Regions from separate parts of the Homo sapiens genome. Here all the other regions are linked to region 1. Evidence: fine-mapped expression QTL. A gene starts in region 1. Each other region holds a variant in brackets. All regions are shown on one strand. Distances are from middle to middle.

Region 1 (4,000 bases):
TAATACTTCTTTCCTTTCCTCAAAAATAAAAAAGAGAGAGACTTGGGAATAAAATTGCCCAAGATGGCGAAACGCTTGTTGTTTAGAGGGCAGGAAAAAAAATGGAGGATATTGTAATATACACAAAGGGATAAATTTCAACAACTCGGCCAAGGACTGCAGCTGCTTCCCTCTTTATAAGGAAGCAACAGACAAAAGATAAATACAGAGGGAGAAAGAAAAGAAGAGAAAATCTCCCAAACAACAGAGCCAGCTCTGACTCTTCAAACACTTCCTTCCCCTTCTCAAATCCCAATTCTGGGGTTCGTGAAACTACTTAAAGGGGAGGGAGCCGCGAAAGAGAACGGGGGCTGGGGGGAGGGGTAGCGACAAGAAGATTAAAAGAGGGAAGCAGAGGAGTTGGGAGCTGGCGGTCGTTCCCGGGGAAGAACTGCTAAAACATGAGACCAAGGCACAGACCTTACTGTATGAGAAGCAATGCTCCTCAAACCTTCTGCGTGCTGACATAGACCTTCCCAGGTATCCAGATCTTTTCCCAATCCCACCTGCCCCACCCCCACCCCCGCTCATCTTCAGTAAACTCAGAGCCTCCAGCTACACACGGGAGAGCTAGAGGCCCAAGCCGGGGAGTGGGGGTGGCAGACGCAGCTCGTCAGTCCGACAGGGAAGAGGGGGCGGAGGCAAAAAAGGGCAGCAGGAGGCGGACGGGGGTGGGGGGTGATCCAGAAACTACCCCGGCAGGGAGTGGGGGAGCAGCGGATATTCCGGGGTAGGAACGGCCATCGCAACGCTGACAGAGGTTGTTTTTTAAGAAGCAAAACTGTTGGCGGCGACCTGAGCGCTGGAAGCCGAAGGGGAAGAGGAAGGAGACGCGAAGCCAGGGCGGCCGGCACAAAGGCGGCGGACTCGCGGCGGCAGCGCCTGCCCGGCCGGGAGCACAACCCACGGCCCTACTCCAGCGAAGTCCCGCACCGGCTTCTAGGAATAAAGTTTACGTTCTCCTGAGGCCGCACCCCCCACCTCCCACCCAGGACGGCACATCTCCGTGTCCTCCTCCCCCAAACTCCACTCGGGACCCCGAGAACCACCCCAGCCTTCCGGCCACCACAACAAAGAGCCGCACCGACCGGCGAGGATAAACAGCGGCGGAGGGCGAGAGGGCGGCGGGGCGAGCGCCTCCACGCAGCAACTCCGGAGTCCCCCGCTTGCCCGAGCGCAGTTTCTCCGCTGCTGTTTCCACCGGCTTTGTAACACTGGGAATTTACATCCTCACCCGCACCCCTCACGCCCGAGGATTTTAAACTCACCTTTACTCTCGAACTGAGAGTTGCGGTAGATGGGATTTTTGCCTTTTCCCCAGATGGTTGAAGGTTAAGATTTTTGGAAACCCCACCACCTCCTTATTTCTATTATTATTTCTGCAAGAAAAGTATAAAGAGAGTTGTAGTGGAGGTGAGATTTGTGATCGGGAAAGCCTTCGACTCCCTCCTTCTCCGTCTTCCGCCTCTCTCTCTCTGATTAGTTCCTATCCAGCAGCAGATTGAAGCAGGAGATGATTCTTCTCAAGGTTTGTTCAGCAGCTTCACTTCTAGGCGAAGGCTTCATGAACCAAGTGACGTCAACCAACAAGGCTTCTCTCTCTCTCCTCTCTCTAACAATGAAAGTTGCTGTTAACAAGGGAAAAAAAGAGAGAGAATTGTTTATACCATTTCAGTTCCAATAATAAATGACCTATCAGCTCCTAAAGGAGCCAAGGGAGGGGGTTGCTTCTTCTTTCCAAGAATACTGTAGCTTTGAGTTTGCACCGTTCCTTGTCCCAGGAAAAAGTTAAGAAACTTAAAATGTTTTGTTTTGCTTTTAAAGAAGACAGGACAGAAAACGGGATTTAAAACTTAGTTTTTAAAAAAACAAAAGCTACAGAGTAGGGAGCATAGGTCAACCATCTCCACCTAAATTTTTTTTGTTCCTAAACTCAGAATTCTACAACCCAACTAAATTAATATGCCAAGATTTTGCGGATGTTAAAACTCAAAAAAAGCAGTATGCAAGACGGTCCCGGGGTAAAATTCTACTGCCTTTCCACGGACAAGTTAAACTGGCTGTAATGTTTATGCACTAAGTTAAAATAAAATTTAAATAAAAGACGTTAAAATAGTCGTTTTAAAGTTATATGCACACACTGTAAAAGGTAATCTCGATAGCTTTTTTTCAAGTTTCTGAGAGATTAGAAAAAAAGCATAGCAAATTGTAGGCACTGAACACTTTTTAAAAATCAAGTTATGAGTAAGACTGGTAGCCCTTTGCTCCTTTAAACTACAAATGCAGTCATATGCTATGGTCTACCCCCAGAATCTCTTCCAACTTTGTTTTTACCCTTCCACTCCCCCAACCCCAATTCCCAAATCCTGCAACCAATCAAGTTAAACTAAAGATACAATAGGCCCCATTCCCTCCCGCACCCCATCCTATAGATTCCTAAAAACAATTTTTTTAAAAGCCTTAATCTTGATAACACTTTATTAGCCAAGAAGATACGTATTTTTTTTTTTAGAAGTTCGTTGAGGTACCGTTTTTTCCCTCCAGAACACAAGAAAGTCTCAAAGTTCATATAATTAAAAATTGCATAATTTAATTTTCAGGATGAAGAGTAAGTAAAAATTAAGCTATCGGAGAATAATTTGATCATCTATGTATATTTTATACATATGTGGATAAATGTATCTTAAAAGATGCTATTGTTTTATGTTTCCTCTTCAGCCACTGGCTGTGATTTTAATTGTGCTGGAGGATCTTCATTAGTATTAACACATGGGGAGATTTCACAAAGCTGCTTCATTAGGAAAAAAAAAAAGCTTGGCAGACTCGGTCTTTTTGCATGCACTGAGAATGTCAGCCTTACCTCGGTCATTTGTAACATAATAAGTGCAAGTACAATGATTGCAATGCAGGAGCACTGGGGGAAGGGCAGAAATACTGCCTGTCTAATAGGGATATCTGAAAAGAAGGCTGCTCATTACAGAGTAAAATGTATGCTAAAAATTAGTGAAGATGATGTCTCAGGAGACTGATGCTAAATAAATTAATGTGCTGATATGTTTTTAATTATTATTTTTGTAGTAGTTTATTTCATTCTCAGGATTCACATTGAGCAGCAAAGCTGTGCTAGCACTTATTGATTTTTTTTCCCTGCCACATTCCCGGAATACAGATTTTAATCATTTCACTACACCACACTCAGTAATTTCATTAAAAACTGGAATCTTCCATCCCCAGAAAAGCATTTAATTTCAATGACATACAATTTCTCTTTTAGCAGCAAACTGTCTCTACAGTAAAAACTGGCCTAAGGTTCAAATGCATAATTTAATCCTGAGTTTTCCATGCTCTGCATTCCTTTCAAGCTATAATTTGAGTAACTACCTAATAACTGTAATAAGGACAATAATTTCCTTATAATATATTATTAACTCATATTTAATTAACTCGGAGGCCAAGCTCTGTACATGTATGACTGGGTCAACAGTTCTATAATCTCAAAATTTACTAATAATGTTCCAGAAGAAAAATATAGATTAAAATATAAGTATGAATGCACTTAGTATCTAAGACTTCTATCCCAAGTCACATACAAAAAAGTTAATGCATTGTTCTATAATGGTGGTCATTAAATAAATAATATTTTTAAGTATGTGGAACTAAAAAATGGAATACACTGATATTTCTATGCGTAAAGTATTGAATATTAATGTTTTAACAATCTATTACTGACACTTTACCTAATCATTAGCATTACTGTTGAAAATATTTAATTTTGAAAAGATAAGGAAAAAGTGCTAGATTCAAGTTATCTTGATTTTCATAAAGAATTCTCCCAAAATATACCTCGCTTGAAATAAAGTTAAGTGGCACACTGTAACTCGAATAATTAAGAATACATCCTTTGCTTAAATACTTCAAACAATATACTGCAAAGCATGGTTCAATTTTTGGTTCCAATAAT
Region 2 (4,000 bases), 280 kb before region 1:
TAATTTTTGCCTGGCTAAAATTTTGTATTTTTAGTAGAGATGGGGTTTTGCCATGTTGGCCAGGCTGGTCTTGATCTCCTGGCCTCAAGTGATCTGCTCGCCTCGGCCTCCCAAAGTGCTTGAATTACAGGTGTGAGCCAACATACCCAGGCCTTAAAGCCTTGAATTTAAAGGCTGAGTATTACACAGCTATATTCAGATACAAAGGTATAGGTGCTAGAGAAATCAGAGAATTGTATTAACCAGAATAACGGTTTTACCAAGGGCAGGGGCAGGCAAAGGACCTAATGGTGGAAGCAATGATTGGGATAATGGGATAATGACACATAAGACAGAATAGGAGGAAAGAGAGGACATGAAGTGGGAGAGCAACAGTGAAAAGTCTTAAGACAAACCGAAAGTCCTGGTGAGATCCAAGGATTGTTGGAGTTGAAGTGCTACAGGGAGTGAACTGGAAGGGAAGAAAGGAGGTGGACAGATGGATGTTTGAAGTGAGTTTATGGAGAGGCGGTAGTTAAAAGTTAGGTTAAGAGATTGTTAACAATTAGCTTACTGTTAATAATTAGGTTAAGAGATTAAACATGGGAGAAAGTAACTGAGGTAGGGAATACCTAGAGTCTGCCTTCAAAAATAAACACCATAAAATTCTGCATTTTGATCTAGTAATTAAAAAGTTGTTTGGAGCCAGGTGCAGTGGCTTGCATTTGTAATTCCAGTGACTTGGCAGGCTGAGGTAGGAAGATTGCTTGAGGCCAGGGATGAGACCACTGCAGGCAACATAGCAAGACCCTATCTCTCTCTCAAAAAAAAAAAAAATTAGCTGGGTGCAGTGCACACCTGTAGTCTCAGCTACTCAAGAGATTGAGGCCAGAGGATAGCTTGAGCCCAGGAGTTTTAGGCTGTAGTGGGCTATGATCATACCACTGCACTCCAGCCTGGGCAACTGAGACCATGTATTAAAAAAATAATAAAAAGATAAAATAAAATGAAAAGTTTAGTTTTAGATTGGTCTTACCTTAGCAATGCAAGCTGGACAAAACCAGTCTCCATCTGGGATTGTTGTAATCTTGGGTCTATGGCAGTAGGTATGACAGCCTTTGTCACAGCCATCACAAAGAAGAAGCAGTTCTTCATTATCTCCCTTTCGACAGATTTGGCAGTACTATAATACATGAAAAATCATTTAAAATTAACGCTCTGCCATGAATAATAGTTATTGGGATGTTAAACACACCATAATTCCTAATTTATATTAGTAATGAACATTCCGCTTGCTTACAAATATACAGTAGCCATACACATCTATGTATCTTTCGTTACACAGATATGGACCACATGACGGGTGAGCAGTTCTATTGGGGTAAATGCACATTTCAAGTACACTGCAAAGAACAAAGCTAGAGGCAGAATGCCTTGCACACACTTCAGAAGCATGTACACATTAACATATGAAATAATTAACATGACATTAGAGCACATAAAGCAATGAATAGCTTTAATACATGATGTTTTATTTGTTTAATGTGCTTCATCTTTTGCTTATCTTAGCATCCTCATGATATCCTGAGAAAGAAATAAGAGTTAGAGTATTTTTTAAAATCAAAATTAGAAAACTTGTATTAGTATCATAATTACGTATAATAAAAAGATAACCCTAGATTTTTGACTAATTCATCTATATATTGTGATAGATTGGAAAATGTGTTCAAACCAGGAAAC[G/T]TTGAAAATCAACCCAAATCAAACATGTGTCACAAGTGCAGAAAATGGATCCTACAAAATGGTTTCTAAGGAAAAAAGATACAATACATGTAAGAAGTTAAGAGGTCATTATTTATTTTTTTAGAATTAAAAATAAAACTAGTTGTTTTCTACTGAAAATTTTCTAATATAATTAAAGACTTTAAATCTGCAAAAAGAAGACTTTTTCCATGTACACATATTCTGTACGGTAAGTTTTACAAAGGAAAGAAGAAAAGTTAGACAAGTAAAAACTTCCAAGATGGCTTTAAAAGACAGTAAGCATTAACACTGTTTTTTGACATCTAGTTCATACTCCAGTCACAAAAAAAAATGTCCTGCAGTCCATATTTTTAAAAATGAAAACATGTAACCAGAAATCATTTAAACTACTTTAAAGTTAGGTATTTATACGCTCTTAAAAACAAAATAGCTTAACTGTTCCAACTTACTTTAATTTTCAATGCAACATTATATCTTAGTCTGGGAAAGTCTAAAATGGTCTTCTTATAACTTAGTATGTATACCAATGACAGTTGTAGAATCTTATCAAAACAGCAGACACACTATTCAAGTTAACAAATGTTTATCAAATGTATATACTATATATTTCATATTAACATTGGCGCGGTTACCAAGGGCAAAAGCAGCAGTTTAACATTCCAATAATCAGTATCTATTTTTTGACCTTTCCTAACATCACCATCACTGAATACCTTAAGATGGTGTTGTTTCTCCATATTTGAGTTACATCGTTAAAACTTCTATTGTAAAAGTATTCACTGAGAAATAACAATTGCAAGGTTATATGTATATCCCTGTAACAACACAATTTAAAAATCAGATTCATGAACATAAGTAAATACTCATTGTTTTCTCTACTAGGCAACTATAAATGCTACAAGATCTGTCTTACATCTCACACTTAGGATTTAAAAATAAAATTATTTCCTGATACTTTTAAAGAAAGGGTGACAGATATCAAACTCATAACAATTTTGAAAAATTATAGTAATAGCTCACAATATGTTACAGTAAATATATTATTATTTGGTTTTAATTCCTCTGCTACTACAGTAAAAAATAGTGGATGCTGCCTACTGTTTAACAATATAAAGCATACTGTGGGTAGAGAATTATCTGGAGGCAAATTATGACAACTCCCTCTTTTTCTTGATAACCTTGGTCTTTGTCCAAAAGGGTATTTCTAAAGATATCGAGCACTTTAATATTTTGTCAGGACTTACTATGAGGATTACTATAGGCACTGTTATGTCTCTAAAGGTTATAAGGTGCTTCTTAATCTTTGAATATGAAACACTGCCTTCTTTTCAAGGTAGTTTCATAGCAAGAAATGTATTATTAAGCATTTTAAAAAGGAAATGAAGATTGTGAGAGATGGAGTTATATGATTAATAAGAGTAGATGAAGAACAAGAGAAAGGTTAATGAATTTGCAAAAATGGAAATAAAGCTATAGATTGCAGAATTTAAATATATCAATATAAAGGCAGGTTTTGATACAAGTTTTAGGTTTATGTGTGTAAGTTTATAATAAAACTGAACACATCATGATGACTGCTTTGGTGTAGATGAGAAAAATATAAATACAAATTTCATTTTGATCTAGGACTTAATCTTTTTTTTTCAGTTTTATTTACAGACAAGGTCTCATTATGTTGCCCAGGCTATAGTGCAGTGGCTGTTCTCAAGTGTAATCACAGCACACTACAGCCTCGAACTCTTGGGCTCAAATGATCCTGCCTTGGCCTCTGGAGTAGCTGGGACTATCAGCATGCACCACCATAACTGGCAAGAAATCAGTCTCAGTTTCTCTCTCTTTTTTAAAAAAATCATTATTGCCTAGATCTCACCAAATATATTTGTCTAAGGTGACATTCAAGCTGGTTTTAATAATAATTTTTAGAAGGAAAAAATATTTGTACCTGGTAAAAACACTATTAAATGAATCAAACAGTGCCTTAAAATTTATAGTAAATTCTGGGCCAGGTGCGGTGGCTCATGCTTGTAATCCCAGCACTTTGGGAGGCCAAGGCAGGCGGATCATTTGAGTTCAGGAGTTCGAGACCAGCCTGGCCAACATGGTGAAACACTGTCTTTACTGAAAATACAAAATTTAGCTGGGCATGGTGGTGCACGCCTGTAATCCCAGCTACTCGGGAGGCTGAGGGCAGGAGAACTGCTTGAACCCAGGAGATTGAGGTTGTAGTGAGCTGAGATTCTGCTACTGCACTCCAGCCTGG
Region 3 (4,000 bases), 110 kb before region 1:
TAATTATAAAAGTTTTAGATTCATGGGGCCCCAAAATAAAGTCTGGTATAATTACAAATCAAGGCCTTCTGAAAAATGCTTAGATGGTCGTCAAAGAGAGATTAGGTGGCTGCAAAGAAGAGCTAAATGGTTTTGAGAACAAAAAACTTGAGGTTTCCTGTGTAAAATATAGCCTGATACATTAAAGAGAAGTACAAAACTTGAAGAAATAGGCTCCAGAAAAAGTTTATTAGGCAACAGATCAACAGCTGATTTAGTAATGAAAGTTAGGCTTCAAACAACTACGACAGTGAGGAGGTTAAAAAAAAAATCTAAACAATTATATCTAGAAAGAATATTAATTCCAAGTTTTGGGTGAAAACTAAGAGTTGGAAAGGTGTTTCTTTGAAGAGAAAAGCAGTGGTCTCCCTAAAAAAATTTCATTTGAATTTCACATATACTAGAGGTCCAGAAAGTTCTAAGGTATTAAGGGTTTTTGAATGTGTGTCTGCTTGTGTATAAGGGATTAATATGACTTCGGAAAATTTGATGTATTTTTCAATCAATGCACTAAAACATTAGGAATCAAATTAGATCTAGGATTCATTATAATCTTCCTACCATGAGAAGTAATCTAAATTGAATAACCAAAAAACTTTAAAATAAGAAAATGAGAAGGGACAAAGTGGGTAAGAGTTATACTAAAGGTATGATTACTTTTAAAAAGAAGGAACTTAAACGTTTTAAAAACGGAGGTTCAAAAGAGATCATGTTGTTTCAAAATGGAGGTAGAGACGTTTTGAAATAAAAATAACAGCACTACGTAAGTTACTTATTTATTTATTTAGAGTCTCCCTCTGTCGCCCAGGCTGGAGTGCAAGTGGCATGATCTCAGCTTGCCACAACCTCCACCTCCCGGTTCAAGTGATTCTTGTGCCTCAGTTTCCCGATTAGCTGGGATTACAGTCATGCGCCACCATGCCCAGCTAATTTTTGTATTTTTAGCAGAGATGGGGTTTCGTCATGTTGGCCAGGCTGGTCTCGAACTCCTGGCCTCAAGCAATCTACCCGCCTTGGCCTCCCAAAGTGTTGTGATCACAGATGTGAGCCACAACGCCTGGCCTATCTATCTGATTTCAAATATGGGCTATTATACAGCCTCATAAATAGAACTTCCATCACAAGTTCAGCAGGTTCCTTGAAATGGAAGTTGGCTTTGACATTTTCTTATCCTCTTTAAATTTTCTATTTCACTTAATTTTTAGTCACAGTGACTTCTTACTTTCTTGCCAGATCAGCAAAGTCAAACTAACAACATTTAAACTACTTATCTAATTACTGAATTTGTATTCGGTAAGTTATTCAGAGTATTTAGTTTGTTACAATTATATGCTCTATAGATTATTGAAATTTTGCTTTTAACCAAGTGGAAACTTATTTCCCAAAAGATTTCTCCAAGTCTAACTTTTGTTAATGATTTAAACACCCTATAATCTCATTCCCAGTTCCTACTTAAGATTCAAATTCATATTAAGGCAAATTGCCTCAGAGGTTTGCCAAAAATAAAAAAAAAAATTCCATGAGCTATCCATGTCAGTTTCTTCAAAATTGCTGGCTATTTCAATCTCCCTATGCATTACATACTCTCATGTATACCCCCTGACCAGAAATTTAAAGAAAACTTCCAATTAGTTTTCCTTTTATTTCCAGAAATTACTCTCCGATGTCCTAAATAATATTGTCATCAGGATGACCCATTATATCTGTTATTACCATTTATTTCCTTATTGAATCCACAAGTGGTAATTCATTACTGTTTGTGGGTTTGTGATATTATATATCCCTCTTAGGGAAACTTGTAATTAGGTCAAAGTTTCCCTGTTTTAATATTGCTCCCCATTTCCTCACTCTTATAACCTTATCAAGCCAGTGAAATAATCCCTGCCTTTTGGCTTAGTGGTCCCTCACTGATCTATGAAAAGATAGGTAAACATTGTTCTCCTAATCCATATTGAATTCCAGAATTTATACTTGTAAGAGTGATCTCAAAAATGCTGAATGAAATCATTAT[A/T]GTCCTCTCTCTCACTTATAAAATATAAAATATTAACATATATCAAAGAAAATAAATTGACTAAAAAGAATATATTGGAAACACTTTCCAGTCAGATATAATTCAGTGATTTTATATTATAATGCAAAAAAGGCAACTAATAGATATCTTAAAAATGGGCAGAAATACACTTTTAATTCTAATTACTTGTGGAAACATCCTTTTATAACATTGTTCCTAGGGACTAAGAAATTCAAACTCAACGACCACTTCTAGAAAATATTACAAAACTGGGGTTACATACAACCAGAAGGCTTAATTATTTTTTAAAAGTTCACTTTAAGAGGTGGCTATTTACACATACATATGTTTTCACACATAACACATATGGCTTTTTTCCTCTCTTTTAAGAAAAATACCCTGTATGTGCTGAAGCCAGTATTCATTCAGCCTAATCTTTTACATTCACTATACAGTGTAACAGAATAAAATCAATGCTTGATTCAGCTATCTGGAAACAGTTTTGTGGTTCCTCCAAAAAGTTAATGTAAAATTACTACATGAATTGAAAACAGGGACTTGAAAACATACTTGTACACCTATATCCCTCAAAAGATGAATGAATAAACAAATGTGATATACATATATACATATTTAATATGTATTTGCATATATGTACAAACATATGTATATATGTACATTTGTATATATGTACAAATATATGGATATGTATACACAAATATATGTATATATGTACATGTATATATGAGCAACTGTGTATATATGTACATTTATACATACTAGTGTGTATGTATAAATGTACATTTGTATGTATATATGTACACATATACATATATCTATAAAATGGAACTATAAAAGGAAATGAAGTTGTGCTACATGCTATAACATAGATGAACCCTGAAAACTCTAAAGTGAGATAAGCCCAACCCAAAAAAGGACAAATATTGTATGATTCCACTTATGAAAAATATGTAGAAGAGGAAAATTTGCAGAGATGGAAAGTAGATTAGAGGTTACTAGGAGATGGGGGATGGTGAGGGAAATGGGAAGTTACTGCTTTTTTTTATTTTTAAATTTTTTTTGAGACAGGGTCTCACTCTGTCACCCAGGCTGGAGTGCAGTGGTGCGATCACAGTTTACTGCAGCCTCAACCTCCTGTGTTCGAGGCCTGAGTAGCTGGGACCACAGGCGTGTGCCACCATGCCCAGCTATTTTATTTTATTTTTGTAGAGCAAAGGTCTCACTACATTGCCCAGGCTGGCCTTGAACTCCTGGTCTCAAGTGATCCTTGAGACCCCGTCTCAGCCTTCCAAAGTGCTGGGATTCAGGCATGAGCCACTGCATCTGACCAGGAGTTATTATTACTTAATGGTTACAGAGTTTCTGTTTGGGATGATGAAAAAATTTTGGAAATACACTAATGATGGTTGTACAGCGCTGTGAATGTAATTAAGACCACTGGATTGTGTAGATAAAAATGGTTAAAATGACAAATTTTATGTTATAGATATTTTACTGCAATGTAAAAAAAATGTAATATACCAAAATCCATTAAACTATATACTTTAAATGGGTGAACTGTATGGTATGTGAATTATATCTCAAAAAAGCTATTTGTAAAAATTAATGTTTGAAGTCCTTCTTCAGTGCTTGAAGATACTGTTCTAGTTCCTTTTCCTTAAAGGAGCTTTCCTGGTCATTCCAATGACCGCTCTCTTACTGTCAACTCATAATATTTTACTTACATATCACTCATTAAGCAATTAATCTTATGCTCCTTTTGACATCTCTGGTTTTTTTAATTACTGTAACACATTTAATATTTGATTACACTTTGCTTATAAAACTAGACTGGTTGCTCAAATTATCAAATCAAGACTCATTTAATATTTGTTTATACTTTATTTACCAAACTAGATTAGTAATAGCGCAGATTGTCAAATCAGGACC
Region 4 (4,000 bases), 22 kb before region 1:
GGCCCAATATCATGACTTTAACAGATCTTTTAAACTGCTTGTTCTTTTTCAAGTTGCTCTATGTTCAAATTATCTTCTTTCCTCTTTCACAACATTCTCATTCTAAAAAGAGACTCTGTCTCTCTCTCAACTCTCACCCACTCACTTTGGTGGAAGCAAGCTGCCATGTCAGACACAGCACCATGGAAATGACCATGTGATCAAGAACTAAGTCCTCCCACCAACAGAACAGGGACAAGGAAAAAAGGCGTGCCAAGAACTATATGAGCTTGGAAGCAGATCTTCTAGCCCCAGTTGAGCCTTGCAATGACTGCTGCCCCAACTGACAGCGTGACAGCCACCTCTTGAGAGATCTTAAGCCAAAACCACCTAACTAAGCCACTACGAGATTCCTGAACTACAGAAACTCCAATAACAAATATGTTTTACCCTGTTAAGTTTTGAAATATTTACTAAACAGAATTAGATAAATTGATAAAGTATCTTATTCATCTCTTTATTCCCTCTCACCCCAACACTGAGTTCCTTGCCTGGAGAAGATACTTAGCAAATAAATGATGAAGCAAAGCCTTAAGATTTGTGATGCAGTTTGGCCAAAACTCATGCCAAATGGGCTTACTCTACTGCTAAGGGAAACAAAAATTTAAGCCCCCAACTCCATATGAAAACTAAAGTAATAAAAAGAAAATACATGTTCACTTAATAAAACATATGATATGCTAATCTGTACCATCAGAGAACAAAGAGTATGTCCAAAATCTATATTTCCACCTTTAAATCTATCATTATTTTCCTCAGTGATCATGCAAACTTTGACCAAATCTCTGTATTTTATCTTTGTAGAATCTGGAATGTACTTCTATGTATTCCATCAGTTGAAATCTTACCCCTCTTAGGATAATGTTCCTGCGAGGAAAAATTATGGAAGACTTTAACAAAGGGAAAAAAAAGATTATGTCCTATCTAGGGCATCATACCAAGTTATCTGTCCCTTTCACTATCCTTTTTGTTTTGGGGGTTGTTTTTTGTGGTAAAATACACATACCAGTAGTCCCCACTTATCCACATTTTCACTGTGAGGCTTCAGTTACGAGCAGTTGGCCAACGTCCAAAAATATTAAAATGAAAATTTTAGGAATCAACAATTCACAAGTTTTAAATTGTGTGCCATTTTGAGTGGCATGATGAAATTTCATGCCTTCCCCCTCAAACCTGCCTGGGACACAAATCATCCCTTTGTCCAGCATATCTACTCTATAAACGCTACCTGCCTGTTAGTCACCTAATAGTTGTCTAGTTATTAGATTGACAAAACATAGTCATCCACTGGGGGTTAGGCAGCATCCACTGAGTGTCTTGGAACGTATCTCCTCGGGGACAAGGCAGGGACTACTGTAATATAAAATTTGCCATTTTTGCCAGTTTTTTAAAAAGCCTACATTCTCCTATCCAAGTACTAACCAGGCCTGTCCCTGCTTTGTTTTAGAAATTAGAGATCGAGCACATACTTTAACCATTTTTAAGTGTACAATTAGCTGGCATTAAGTTCATTCACAATACTGTGCAACCTCCACCACTATCCATTTCCAGGCCTTTCAATTCTCTTTGAACTAAATTCTCAGACAATAAAAACACTGAACTTCTAATATTCTGCATGTGCATTAAAAAACAAAAAGTCGGCCGGGCGCGGTGGCTCACTCCTGTAATCCCAGCACTTTGGGAGGCCGAGGCGGGCGGCCTACCTTGTGGTCAGGGGATCGAGACCATACTGGCTAACACGGTGAAACCCCGTCTCTACTAAAAATACAAAAAAATCAGCCAGGCGTGGTAGCGGGAGCCTGTAGTCCCAGCTACTCCGGAGGCTAAGGCAGGAGAATGGCATGAACCCGGGAGGCGGAGCTTGCAGTGAGCTGAGATCGCGCCACCGCGCTCCAGCCTGGGCAACAGAGCGAGACTCCGTCTCAAAAAAAAAAAGTAATTAGAAAAACTAAGTATTTTAGTTTTTAATCTTAAGAACCCAAGTTTACAAAAGAAAGGTAAATCTTTGGCAAATGGGACTAATTTAATACATTCTAATTTTAAAAATTTATGGCTTTAACCAATCGGACAAGCTAGCATTAATCCTTAAAGTTTACAACATGAAACAGATAAATTCT[C/T]ATGTTCAAGTAAATTGAGTCATTATTTTGACAGTTTTTTTTTTTTTCTTGACATGTAATCTTGTTTTGTTGCCCAGGATGGAGTGCAGTGGCGTGATTATGGCTTGCTGCAGCCTCCGCCTCACAGGCTCCAGGGATCCTCCCAGCTCAGTCTCCCAAGCGGCTGGGACTACAGGCGCGTGCCAACATACCCAGTGAATTTTTTGTAGTTTTTGTAGAGACAGGGCTTCACCATGTTGCCCAGGCTGGTCTCAAACTCCTAAGCTCAAGCTGTTTGCCTGCCTTAGCCTCCCAAAGTGCTGGGATTACAGGCCCAAGCCACCGGGCATGGCCCAACAAATTTTTATTTCAACAGTAAGTATATTTTGCAGCATGGCAGCTTGAAGATAATTTTCAAATCTTTAGGTAGCCTAAAACCTTGGACTGATATTAAATAATTATTCAATGCGTAATAACTTCTAAGCAAAATACTGAAACATTGATTACTATGCATCCTTTTAAACATATACTTTTTTTTTTTTAAACGGAGTTTTGCTCTTGTTGCCCAGGCTGGAGTGCAATGGCATGACCTCGGCTCACCGCAACCTCCGCCTCCTGGGTTCAAGCGATTCTCCTGCCTCATCCTCCTGAGTAGCTGGGATCACAGGCATGCACCACCACACCTGGCTAATTTTGTATTTTTAGTAGAGATGGGGTTTCTCCATGTTGGTCAGGCTGGTCTCAAACTCCTGATCTCAGGTGATCTGCCCACCTCGGCCTCCCAAAGTGCTGGGATTACAGGCTAAACATACACTTTTGTTTCTTGTTTTTATATACTAATGACAAGCTGTTTTAGGTCATGTTAGTGGAAATGTCAATTTTTGCCACTTTAAGAGGCGAAAAAGAGGTATGCGTGCTGTAAAAAGTGGTGTTGTGTGTGCTCATGAATTCTACTAGTCTGCTAAAATGCTGGTATATGACACAGTTCTCAATTATTCACCTCCAACTTTTCTCTGTAAAACAGAAATTAGTCACTTCGACTAAAAGTTACAATTAATATGATTCATTGAAATCTGTTATGTAAGTTTAGCCTAAAGCTGCCTCTTTACATATTTTAAATTCAACCTAGAGGCTTCTCTGTACATTCTGAACTATATCTAACAAGCGGAGGTACTATCAGTCCATAGCCCACTCTTGTGCCAATCACCCAGTTTTGGCATATCAAATGTGGCCAACTGTTCCAACTGTGTTTAACTAAGGCAAATACCAAGCTGTAACCAATCCAGCTATTTCTGTACCTCACTTATGTTTTCTGTATGTCACTTCCTTTTTCTGTCCATAAATCTTCTTCCACCACTTGGCTACGCTGGAGTCTCTGAGCTTACTCTGGCTTGGGAGGCTGCTTGATTCGTGAATTTTCTTTGCTCAATTAAACACTTTAAATAAATTTGGCTGAAGTCTTTCTTTTAACAGACTATACCAGGAGCAACAATGACATGGAATCACAGCTCGGTATGTGCATTTATTTTAAAGGAAAAGGAGTAGTATTGTCCTAAAGAACGGATTCTTGTGCATTTTGGTCTCCTGGCCTCTTTACACTCTTAGGACTTGTTGAAGACTCCAAAAGAGTTTTCATTGTACATAGGTTGTAAGTCTTGATGTTTACCATATTGGAAATTAAGACTCAGAACTATTTTAAGCGCTTATTTACTGTTTCATTTGAAGACAACAATGATTAATATATTGCATTTTAGCAAATTTTAGTATTTTTATAAAAATATGCGTGACACCACAGATCCTGTTAGAAGCACGGCCCTAAAGTTTGTTCAAGAATATAAAAGACAATGAAGGACCTAACCTAGAAA
Region 5 (4,000 bases), 36 kb before region 1:
AATGTTTCCCAAAATGAGAGACAAACAAAATGTCCCTCAACAAAGGAATGATTTAAAAATGCTTACATTAGACAGATCAACGAGACAAAAAGTTAACAAGGATATCCAGGAATTGAACTCAGCTCTGCACCAAGCAGACCTAATAGACATCTACAGAACTCTCCACCCCAAATCAACAGAATATACATTCTTCTCAGCAACACATCGCACTTATTCCAAAATTGACCACACAGTTGGAAGTAAAGCACTCCTCAGCAAATGTAAAAGAACAGAAATTTTAACAACTGTCTCTAGGACCACAGTGCAATCAAACTAGGAATCAGGATTAAGAAACTCACTCAAAACCGCTTAACTACATGGAAACCGAACAACCTGCTCCTCAATGACTACTGGGTACATAACGAGATGAAGGCAGAAATAAAGATGTTCTTTGAAACCAATGAGAACAAAGACACAACATACCACCACCTCTGGGACACATTTAAAGCAGTGTGTAGAGGGAAATTTATAGCACTAAATGCCCATGAGAAAGCAGGAAAGATCTAAAATTGACACCCTAACGTCACAATTAAAAGAACTACATAAGCAACAGCAAACAAATTCAAAAGCTAGCAGAAGACAACAAATAACTAAGATCAGAGCAGAACTGAAGGAGACAGAGACACAAAAAAACCCTTCAAAAAATCAATGAATCCAGCAGCTGGTTTTTTGAAAACATCAACAAAACTGATAGATCGCTAGCAAGACTAATAAAGAAGAAAAGAGAGAAGAATCAAATAGACGCAATAAAAAAATGACAAACGGGGTATCACCACCGATCCCCCAGAAATACAAACTACCATCAGAGAATACTATAAACACCTCTACGCAAATAAACAAGAAAATCTAGAAGAAATGGATAAATTCCTGGACACATACACCCTCCCAAGACTAAACCAGGAAGAAGTTGAATCCCTGAATAGATCAATAACAAGCTCTGAAATTGAGGCAATAATTAATAGCCTACCAACGAAAACAAGTCCAGGACCAGATGGATTCACAGCCGAATTCTACCAGCGGTACAAAGAGGAGCTGGTACCATTCCTTCTGAAACTATTCCAATCAATAGAAAAAGAGGGAATCCTCCCTAACTCATTTTAATGCCAACATCATCCTGATACCAAAGCCTGGCAGAGACACAACAAAAAAAAGATAATTTTAGACCAATATCCCTGATGAACATCGATGCAAAAATCCTCAATAAAATACTGGCAAACTGAATCCAGCAGCAAAAGCTTATCCAACACGATCACATTGGCTTCATCCCTGGGATGCAAGGCTGGTTCAACATACACAAATCAATAAATGTAATACACCATATAAACAGAACCAAAGACAAAAACCACATCATTATCTCAATAGATGCAGAAAAGGCCTTCAACAAAATTTAACAGCCCTTCATGCTAAAACCTCTCAATAAACTAGGTATTGATGGGATGTATCTCAAAATAATAAGAGATATTTATGACAAACCCACAGCCAATATCATACTGAATGGGCAAAAACTGGAAGCATTCCCTTTGAAAACTGGCACAAGGCAGGGATGCCCTCTCTCACCACTCCTATTCAACATAGTGTTGGAAGTTCTGGCCA[G/C]GGCAATCAGGCAGGAGAAAGAAATAAAGGGTATTGAATAAGGAAAAGAGGAAGTCAAATTGTCCCTGTTTGCAGATGACATGATTTTTTATTTAGAAAACCCCATCGTCTCAGCCCAAAATCTCCTTAAGCTGATAAGCAACTTCAGTAAAGTCTCAGGATACAAAATCAATGTGCAAAAATCACAAGCATTCCTATATACCAATAATAGAGAAACAGCCAAATCATGAGTGAACTCCCATTCACAATTGCTTCAAAGAGAATAAAATACCTAGGAATCCAACTTACAAGGGATGTGAAGGACCTCTTCAAGGAGAACTACAAACCACGGCTCAACAAAATAAAGGATGACACAAACAAATAGAAGAACATTCCATGCTCATGGATAGGAAGAACCAATATCGTGAAAATGGCCATACTGCCCAAGGTAATTTATAGATTCAATACCATCCCCATCAAGCTACCAATGACTTTCTTCACAGAACTGGAAAAAACTACTTTAAAGTTCATATGGAACCAAAAAAGAGCTCGCGTTGCCAAGACAATCCTAAGCCAAAAGAACAAAGCTGGAGGCATCACACTATCTGACTTCAAACTATACTGCAAGGCTACAGTAACCAAAACAGCATGGCTACAGTAACCAAAACAGACATAGAGACCAATGGAACAGAACAGAGGCCTCAGAAATAATACTACACATCTACAACCATCTGATCTTTGACAAACCTGAGAAAAACAAGCAATGGGGAAAGGATTCCCTATTTAATAAATGGTGTTGGGAAAACTGGCTAGCCATATGTAGAAAGCTGAAACTGGATCCCTTCCTCACACCTTATACAAAAATTAATTCAAGATGGATTAAAGACTTAAATGTCAGACCTAAAATCATAAAAATCCTAGAAGAAAACCTAGACAATACCATTCAGGACATAGGCATGGGCAAAGACTTCATGACTAAAACACCAAAAGCAATGGCAACAAAAGCCACAATTGACAAATGGGATCTAATTAAACTAAAGAGCTTCTGCACAGCAAAAGAAACTACCATCAGAGTGAACAGGCAACCTACAGAATGGGAGAAAATTTTTACGATCTACCCATCTGACAAAGGGCTAATATCCAGAATCTACAAAGAACTTAAACAAATTTACAAGAAAAAAAAAATCAAACCACCACGTCAAAAAGTGGACAAAGGATACGAACAGACACTTCTCAAAAGAAGACATTTATGCAGCCAACAGACACATGAAAAAATGCTCATCATCACTGGCCATCAGAGAAATGCAAATCAAAACCACTATGAGATACCATCTCATGCCAGTTAGAATGGCGATCATTAAAAAGTCAGGAAACAACAGGTGCTGGAGAGGATGTGGAGAAATAGGAACACTTTTACACTGTTGGTGGGACTGTAAACTAGTTCAACCATTGTGGAAGACAGTGTGGTGATTCCTCAAGGATCTAGAACTAGAAATACCATTTGACCCAGCTGTCCCATTACTAGGTATACACCCAAAGGATTATAAATCATGCTGCTATAAAGACACATGCACATGTATGTTTATTGCAGCACTATTCACAATAGCAAAGAATTGGAAACAACCCAAATGTCCATCAATGATAGACTGGATAAAGAAAATGTGGCACATATACACCATGGAATACTATGCAGCCATAAAAAAGGATGAGTTCATGTCATTTGTAGGGATATGGATGAAGCTGGAAACCATCATTCTGAGCAAACTATCACAAGGACAGAAAACCAAACACCGCATGTTCTCACTCATAGGTGCGAATTGAACAATGAGAACACTTGGACACAGAGTCAGGAACATCACACACTAGGGCCTGTCGGGTGGGGGGAGGGGGGAGGGATAGCATTAGGAGATATACCTAATGTAAATTACAAGTTAATGGGTGCAGCACACTAACGTGGCACATGTGTACATATGTAACAAACCTGCACGTTGTGCACATGTACCCTAGAACTTAAAGTATAAAAAAAATGCTTACACATCACTGTATAATCCTTTTAAAGAAAACGTATTTATATATATTCACATGGCAGACTTCTGTTGCATAGGTAGAATATATAATCAAACTGCAGAATGCATATTTAATTAGATTTTAAAAAATAAGTATATATATTCATGTGCATATTAAAAAGGTCTGAAAGAATGTACAGCAAACCATTTTAAAGTAGTTCTGGAAACTGCCATCAGCAGGGCCAAAGGGAATATATTTACTTTATGAATGGACAGATTTGAGTTTCTCCGGTAAGAATATATCGCTTTGTAATACAAATAAGTAGCCACCAGAAAACATAAATGCACTGGGTAAGTTCACATACTTTTTTTTTGAGACTCTG
Region 6 (4,000 bases), 67 kb before region 1:
TTTGAAGATACTGTTCAAAATATTCAGACTCTAGAAAACAAAATGTTTAGGATGTATTTTATAACGTTACTGTACTACATTTTAAAATTTTAACACCTTTAGATTTGTCACTTGCTATAAAATATGGAAATTCTTAAAAAGATTTTCACTTCCAGTTTTATCACTGTTATTATATTTTACTAAAGATATTTTAAAATTGACTATAACTCTACTTTTGGTATTAGAAAAGTGAAAAATAAAGGTCAGATAGTACATAGTAAACTTGTTCTGGAAATGACTATTTTTTGCACTTTTCAGATAATGACTTAACTATCACTTACAACACACTAGGAAAGATATTTGACCTTTCCAAGTCTCAGTTTGGGCATCTGTAGAATGTAATGATATATCTTTTAAAATTGTTAAAGTTTCAAATAAGTACCTAGCATCTTAAAAAATCAGTGGATAAATAAATATTAGCTTTGTTCTTCATTCCTCAACACATGTATCAAAATATATTATCAAAATTAAAAATATTTAATGATAGTCAAGTACAGTGGCTCACACCTGTAACTTCCATGCTTTGGGAGGCCTAGGTGGAAGGATTGCTTGAGGCCAGGAGTTTGAGGTTCCAGTGAGCTATGATTGTGCCACTGTAGTCCAGCCTGGGTGACTGAGCAAGACCCTGTTTCTAAAAATAAAAACATAACCAAAGAAAAACCCCACTAAAATTTAATGGAAAAGCAATAAATAATATTAAATTTACATTAAAATAACTCATCACTAGGTATCTAGCACTTACCAAAGTTTTTAGTTTATAAATTCCTATAAGAGCTGAACATTAGGCTCATTTACTTCCTCAAATGTTATATTTCAACAACGTTAAACTAAGGCCGGGCGCGGTGGCTCACGCCTGTAATCCCAGCACTTATGGGAGGCCGAGGCAGGCAGATTAGTTGAGGTCAAGAGTTCGAGACCAGCCTAAGCAACATGGCGAAACCTCATCTCTACTAAAAATAGAAAAATTAGCCAGGCATGGTGGCATGTGCCTGAAACCCCAGCTACTCAGGAGGCTGAGGCAGGAGAACTGCTTGAACCTGGGAGGCGGAGGCTGCAGTGAGCCGAGATTGCACCACTGCACTCCAGCCTGGGCAACAGAACGAGACTCTGTCTCAAAAACAAACAAACAAACAAACAACTAAAACTAAAACATTTACATGTCTCTGAACATATGTTCTTTCAAGTCTATATGCCTATTTCCTCTTTCTAGACTCTCTTCTACATTATACTTCAAAGTCTAGACCACGTGTCTCACTCCTCTGCAAACGTTTCTTGATCCCCTGTGCTAGACAGAATGAATCATTTCCCTTTCCATTCTTCTCCTAAAACTTCCAGAGCTGTCTCATCTTTTGGCTTCCCCGGGCTACACTGGATGAAGAGGGATTGTGTTGAACCACACATAAAATACAGTAACACGAACGATAGCTGATGAGCTAAAAAACAAAAATCACAAAAAAAATCTCATAATGTTTTGATAAAGTTTCCAAATTTGTGTTAGGATGCACTGATAGCTGTCCTGGGCTGCATGTGGCCCACAGGCCACAGGTTGGACAAGCTTGACTTAAACCATGGAGACAGTAGAGTTCAAATAAAACAAGTGAGATGTTTAAAAAAAAAAAAAAAAGACATTTTCACACTGGCATAAACTTTTTTCTTTCTTTTTTTTTTTTTTTTTGATACAGAGTCTTGCTGTGTAGCCCAGGCTGGAGTGCAGTGGTGCAATCTCAGCTCACTGCAACCTCCGCCT[C/T]CCGAGTTCAAGCAATTCTCCTGCCTCAGCCTCCTGAGTAGCTGGAACTACAGGCATGTGCCACCACGCCTGGCGAATTTTTGTATTTTTAGTAGAGATGGGGTTTTGCCATGTCGGCCAAGCTGGTCTCAAAACTCCAGACAAGTGATCTGCCCACCTCTGCCTGATCCACCCACCTCAGCCTCCCAAAGTCCTGGGATTAAAAAAGGCGTGAGCCACCGCATCCGGCCACAATGGCATAAACATTCTTCATCAAGCTAGCTTGGTGTATCAGGATTAGTTTTGGCCAGGAGTGACAGAAAGCCCAAAAGTGAATGGCTCATACAATACAGAATTTTATCTCTGTCATGTCAAAGAAATCCAGGGATAGGCAGGCCAGTAGGGACAGTGTAACATCATGTTAGTAAGGATTTTCTTTCTTACTGCTGCTTTACCCATTCTCAGTATAGGGTTTCCACTCACAGTCCAATTATGCTCACAATTCAGCCAGCAAGGAGGAAGGGGGCGAAAAAGAGGATGTGCACCCATTCCTTTAAGGATACATCCTGAAAGTTGCACACACTACTTCTGCCTATATATCTCTTGCCAAAATTTAGCCAGATTACTATACCTAGCTGCAAGGGAGACTGGGGAAATGATGTTTTTATTCTAGGTAGTGATATACCGGAAAAAAAATTAGAAGAGGGGGAAAACCAGTATTAGGGACAACTATCAATCATGCCATACTTGGTTATATCTTCTCTGTGGTAGGTACCTGACATTTTAAATTTACTAGCTAACACCAGTATTTCTGACAGTATGTACACTATAAAGTTATACAGCAATTCCTTCTACATCTCAATTATTAAGTATTACTATTGGGAGAGGTGTATCTCTACAAAATTTAAGTAATATTCATAATAAAATTACCAAAGAGAAAAATAGAAAAAAAAATTTTTTTGAGGCAAGGTCTTCCTCTGTAGCCTAGGCTGGAGTACAATGGTACAATCTTGGCTTACTGCAGCCTTGAACTCCTGGACTCAAGCAATCCTTCCACCTCAGCTTCCCGAGTAGCTGGGACTACAGGCTTGAGCCACCATGCCTAGCTGATTTTGTTTATTATTTTGTAGAGACAAAGTCTCACTATATTGCCCAGGTTGGTCTTTAACTCCAGGGCTCAAGCAATCCCCCCTGTTGGGCTCCCAAAGTGCTGGTATTACAGGAGTGAGAGCCACTGTGCCCAGGCAAGAAATTTTAATAAAAACAGAAAAAGCCACTTTATTTAAAAGGTTGCCGGCCGGGCACGGTGGCTCACGCCTATAATCCCAGCACTTTGGGAGGCCGAGGTGGGCGGATCACGAAGTCAGGAGATCAAAACCATCCTGGCTAACATGGTGAAACCCCGTCTCTACTAAAAATACAAAAAATTAGCTGGGCGTGGTGGCGGAAACCTGTAGTCCCACCTACTCAGGAGGCTGAGGCAGGAGAATGGTGTGAACCCGGGAGGTGAACCTGGCAGTGGGCCAAGACTACACCACTGCACTCCAGCCTGGGTGACAGTGAGACTCAGACTCAAAAAAAAAAAAAAAAAAAAAAAAGTTGCCTTAGGACAGATTATTAAATATACAGTAAAATATTAAATAAGAATATCTGAAGATAAAATATAGCCACTATAATAATGAAATTACATATAAACAAGACTGCATGTAAATGCAACTGCAAAAATACGCTCAGAGAAGACAGAGGATTAAGGGAGATTTAAGAAAATAACCTCTGAATTATTTTATTATACTTTCTATAAATGCTATTTAGACACCTTTAATCAAGTAAGAACTGATCACAAAACAGAACAGTAAAAATTCTAACAGGATAAAGCAAAGTCAGGTTAGTCCAAGTTCTCAAATCATGTAATTTTAGACAAGTAACTTTACAGATATTGATGAGTATGATGAGGGTAAGAAAAGTGTAGTATGTGCCATCTTTTGTGCTAAGTGCTTTATGAGCAATGTTTATTTAATATTCCAGACATAATAATATTATCCCTACTCTAGAAAAGAAAAAATTGGGTCTTAGACTAAGAAACTGACTCATGATCACATCAGCTACAGAAGTAGCAGAACACAAACTAAAACAAAGGTTTTTCTAACCCCAAGTCCATGTCCTTAACTATTATGTGCACTACTTTCCCACAAACTCTCTAGACCTTGGTTTTCTCGCCCATTACCTAAGGGGAAT
Region 7 (4,000 bases), 43 kb before region 1:
TACTCCCAAGATAACAAACCCACTTCCCAGGTAAGTGCATTAATCCCTTCATAAGGGTGGAGCCCTTGTGGCCTAATCACATCTTCAAGGCTGCACCTCTTAATACTGTTACAATGGCAACATCAAGTTTCAACATGATTTTTGGAAGGGACATTCAAACCACAGCACCAGTTTTCATCAAGCATGCCTATGTAATTAAACCCCCATAAAAACCACTAAATTACGGGATTTGTAGAGTTTCCAAGTTGGTAAACAGATCCATGTGCTGAGAGGGTAGCACACTCTGACTCCAAGGGGACAGAGACTCCTATGCTCAGGATCCTATTACACATTGCCTTATATACCTTACCAACTGGATGCTCATTTGTTATCTGTTATAATAAACTGATAAGTATAGCACTTTCCTGAGCTCAATGAGTCTCTAGCAAATAACTGAAACTGAAGGGGGTTGTGGGAACCTCTGATTAGTTTCAGCCTGTCAGAACTGTGAGTAACTGAGAGACCCTACTGGTGGCTGGCATCTGAAGTGGGGACAGTATTATGGGACTGAGACCTTAAACTGTGGGGTCTACAATAACTTTGAACAGTTACTGTCAGAATGGAATTAAATTGTTGAGACAAAGTTGGTGCTGAATAATTGGAGAATTTGTTTTTGGAAAAGCACACACAATACTCAATACATTTATTTTGGATAAATCAATAAATAAGTGAAAGTGAACAATAAATAGAAGATATATTAAACTACTCATATATTTTATTATTATTATGCATAGGCATGTTTGTAACACTTTTTAGAGCTAGATTTTTGCTGTTCTTGCAATTCATTTGTATTGAATTTTTCCATATAGATAGTGCTTGCTTTTATATTTTACAATTATTTTAACATAAGTACATGCTTTTAAACTATTATTTTCAAGTTTAAAAACACTTAAGCCAACATCCATTACCAAAACCAAAACAAAAACAAAAATCAGATTCTCCTTTATGAAACACAGAGATTAGCATGAATGTACCTGCCTCTCTCTTAATATTATTTATCCTAAGCAACATGAGAATGAGGATTGTGTTTAATTGGAATTTTCTTTTCCAGAGATTAACAGGGTGCTTAGAAGATGAGAAGTGCTCACTACCTGCTGGAAAATAAAAAGAAATATTATGAGGGCAAAATATCAAAAAGAGGACCAGAAAGTGGGAAACGAGATAGTTTTCTAGAAAACTGAAAAAGGACTAAAAAATTAGGGGTGGGGTATAACTGAATTGGGCCAAAGATTATAAGTGACCTTGAAGAAAGTAATTTCAGATAAAATAGCATGAAAAGTTAAATTTTGGATTATTTTGGCCAGGATTGCCAAAATAATCTTGAAAAGGAAGAATAAAGTTGGAAGGCTCACACTTTCTGATTTCAATTTACTACAAAGCTATAGTAATCAAAGCAGAGTAGCATGGCTTAATGCTAGACCTTTAGATCAACAGAATAGAATTGAGATTCAAGAAACAAACCCTTGCTTACATGTACAGTCAAATGATATTTGACAAGGGTGCCAAAACAATTCAATGGGGAAAGAATATCTTTTCAACAAAAGGTGCTGGAACAACTGAATATCCACATGTAAAAGAAGGAAACTGGACCCCTACCTCACACCATACACAAAAAGGAACTAAGAATGAATCAATGACCCAAACGTAAGAGGTAAAAACGTAAAATTCCTGGAAGAAAATAAAGGCGTAAATCTTCTTGACCTTGGATTAGGCAATGTTTACTTAGATATGGCATCAAAAGCACAAGCAATCAAAGGAAAAATAGATAACGTGGACTTTTGTCCTTCAAAGGACACTATCAAGAAAGTGAAAAGACAACCTACAGAATGGAAGAAAATATTTGTATATCATATATCTGAAGACAGTTGTATCCAAAATATATTTTTAAAAAACACTTATAACTACTCAATAATTAAAAACAACACAGCCAGGCACAGGTGGCTCACATCCATAATCCTAGCACTTTGGGAGGACAAGGTAGGTAGATCGCTTGAGCCCAAGAGTTCAAGACCAGCCTGGGCAACATGGCAAAATCCCTTACCTACAAAAAAATATAAAAATTGGCTGGGTGTGTTGGCATGTGCCCATAGTCCCAGCTACTTGGGTGGCTGAGGGGGAGGATCCCTAGAGCCTGGGAGGTTGAGCCTACAGTGAGCCATGATGTGCCACTGCACTCTACCCAGGATGACACAGTGAGACCCAGACCCTGACAGATGGAGAGACTGACAGACACACACACACACACACACATACACACACACACACACACACACACACACACAGCACAATTTTAAAATGGGCAAAGGGTTTGAATAGATATTTTATCAAAAGAAGATACACAAATGGCCAATAAGCATAAGAAAAGATGCTCAATATCATTAGTCATCAGAGAAATGCAAATCAAAACCACGAGATGGCACTTCACACTCACTAGAATGGCTAA[AAAAC/A]AAACAAACAAACAAAACAAAACAAAAAAAACCTAATAAGTGTTTGTAAGGATGTGGGGAAACTGGAACCCTTACACAATGCCAGTGGGATTGCAAAACATTGCAGCCACTTTAGAAAACATTTTGGCAGTTTCTCAATAAGTTAAACAGAGTTATGTCACCCAGCAATTCCATTCCTAGTTATATGCACAAGAGAACTACAAACATATGTCCATAAAAAAACCTACACGTATGTAGGTTTTGTACATGAATGTTCACAGCAACATTATTCATAATTATTCAAGTGTTCATCAAATAATAAATGGATAAACAAAATATGACACACTCATACAATGAAATATTATTTGGTAAGAAAATGAAATGAAGGCTGGGCGCGGTGGCTCACGCCTGTAATCCCGGCACTTTGGGAGGCTGAGGCAGGTGGATGACGAGGTCAAAAATTCGAGATCAGCCTAACCCCATCTCTATTAAAAATACAAAAATTAGCTGGGCATGGTGGCATGCGCCTGTAATCCCAGCTACTCAAGAAGCTGAGGCAGGAGAATCGCTTGAATCCAGGAGGCGGAGGCTGCAGTGAGCCAAGATCCTACCACTGCATTCCAGCCTGGGTAACACAGCAAGACTCCATCTCAAAAAAAAAAGAAAAGAAAAGAAAGAAAAAAGAAAATAAAATGAAGTTGTAATACATGCTGCAACAAGGATGAACTTGGAAAGCATTATGTTACATGACAGAAGCCAGTCACAAAAAACCATATATTGTATAATTCCACTTACATGCAATGTCCAGCGTAGGCAAATCCATAGAGAGAGAAAGTAGGATAGTGGGTAATGGGAGTTGGGGGAACAGGAAATGGAGAATGACTCCACAGGGAGTCCTATGCTTCTATGCTCAGGACCCTTTTGGACCTTCCCTCATTCATACCAGGGTTACTCCAGCCTGGGCGACAGAGCAACACTCTGCCTCCCAAAGAAAAAAAACCATGCAGAAAGGGAGAGTAGATAGCCTGAAAGAGGTTAAAATATACTGGATAAAAAATAGAAGTGAAGTCAATTCAACAGGCATGTATCAAGGGCTTACCATCTTCTAGACACAGAGTTATAAAGAGTTATAATATTAGGGATATAAAGGTAAATGGAGGAATTCATTAAGTTGAGAAGGCTTAACAAACCTTTGCCTCCAAAGAAGTCAACACCCAAATGATCCAAATGAAATTACAACTGCTTTTAAGGTTGGACCACAGTATTTGCCACTACTTAATTATTGAACCTCTCTAAGATTCCTAACCTGTAAAGTGAGGAATGGAGACCCTAGATCACTCACTTCTAAAATTTGAAGAGTCAAAACAATGTTGGTAGACTAGAAATTGGAATAATAGGTCAAAATCCACAAAAAGCATGATTATATGTACTCCATTAACATGATTATAAAACTCTTGAAGTGATACTAGTATGTACTCAAGAATATCATTTTCAAAAGAAAAAAATTTTAACATGATTGAATATGAAATCTCCAA

Direction of the effects. Positions count from the first base shown, and alleles are read on the strand shown. Sizes are in standard deviations (SD) of each study's normalised expression. Not every link is listed here.
In carriers of allele T in region 2, the expression in tibial nerve of the gene that starts at base 1,614 in region 1 tends to be lower than with G alone (moderate effect, 0.40 SD a copy in GTEx).
In carriers of allele T in region 6, the expression in fibroblasts of the gene that starts at base 1,614 in region 1 tends to be higher than with C alone (small effect, 0.13 SD a copy in GTEx).
For the expression in monocytes after R848 of the gene that starts at base 1,614 in region 1, allele A in region 7 goes with a higher level than allele AAAAC (large effect, 0.80 SD a copy in Quach 2016).

What was found. PIP is the estimated chance that this variant, and not a neighbour inherited with it, causes the effect.
Region 2: its variant is fine-mapped to the expression of BAZ2B in tibial nerve (GTEx, PIP above 0.99).
Region 3: its variant is fine-mapped to the expression of BAZ2B in whole blood (TOPMed, PIP 0.99).
Region 4: its variant is fine-mapped to the expression of BAZ2B in whole blood (TOPMed, PIP 0.97).
Region 5: its variant is fine-mapped to the expression of BAZ2B in whole blood (INTERVAL, PIP above 0.99).
Region 6: its variant is fine-mapped to the expression of BAZ2B in fibroblasts (GTEx, PIP 0.93).
Region 7: its variant is fine-mapped to the expression of BAZ2B in monocytes after R848 (Quach 2016, PIP 0.95).

Annotation. Positions count from the first base shown.
Region 1 is chr2:159,614,935-159,618,934 of GRCh38, forward strand. It overlaps BAZ2B (bromodomain adjacent to zinc finger domain 2B), which reads right to left and starts at 1,614. Exons shown (of 37, transcript NM_013450.4): 1 at 1,308-1,614. It overlaps BAZ2B-AS1 (BAZ2B antisense RNA 1), which reads left to right and starts at 360. Exons shown (of 2, transcript NR_110588.1): 1 at 360-519; 2 at 816-3,108. RefSeq lists enhancers at 1-93, 1,150-1,676, 1,304-1,383, 1,634-1,703.
Region 2 is chr2:159,331,525-159,335,524 of GRCh38, forward strand. It overlaps BAZ2B (bromodomain adjacent to zinc finger domain 2B), which reads right to left. Exons shown (of 37, transcript NM_013450.4): 34 at 1,016-1,162. Among named protein-coding and RNA genes, the nearest start is that of WDSUB1, 47 kb to the left of the region's middle. The variant G/T (reference allele first, on the strand shown) is at 1,720.
Region 3 is chr2:159,507,069-159,511,068 of GRCh38, forward strand. The region is part of intron 2 of BAZ2B (bromodomain adjacent to zinc finger domain 2B); the gene reads right to left. Among named protein-coding and RNA genes, the nearest start is that of BAZ2B-AS1, 110 kb to the right of the region's middle. The variant A/T (reference allele first, on the strand shown) is at 2,051.
Region 4 is chr2:159,592,444-159,596,443 of GRCh38, forward strand. The region is part of intron 1 of BAZ2B (bromodomain adjacent to zinc finger domain 2B); the gene reads right to left. Among named protein-coding and RNA genes, the nearest start is that of BAZ2B-AS1, 21 kb to the right of the region's middle. The variant C/T (reference allele first, on the strand shown) is at 2,157.
Region 5 is chr2:159,578,436-159,582,435 of GRCh38, forward strand. All of the region lies in intron 1 of BAZ2B (bromodomain adjacent to zinc finger domain 2B), which reads right to left. Among named protein-coding and RNA genes, the nearest start is that of BAZ2B-AS1, 35 kb to the right of the region's middle. The variant G/C (reference allele first, on the strand shown) is at 1,633.
Region 6 is chr2:159,548,128-159,552,127 of GRCh38, forward strand. All of the region lies in intron 2 of BAZ2B (bromodomain adjacent to zinc finger domain 2B), which reads right to left. Among named protein-coding and RNA genes, the nearest start is that of BAZ2B-AS1, 65 kb to the right of the region's middle. The variant C/T (reference allele first, on the strand shown) is at 1,787.
Region 7 is chr2:159,571,853-159,575,852 of GRCh38, forward strand. All of the region lies in intron 1 of BAZ2B (bromodomain adjacent to zinc finger domain 2B), which reads right to left. Among named protein-coding and RNA genes, the nearest start is that of BAZ2B-AS1, 41 kb to the right of the region's middle. The variant AAAAC/A (reference allele first, on the strand shown) is at 2,483.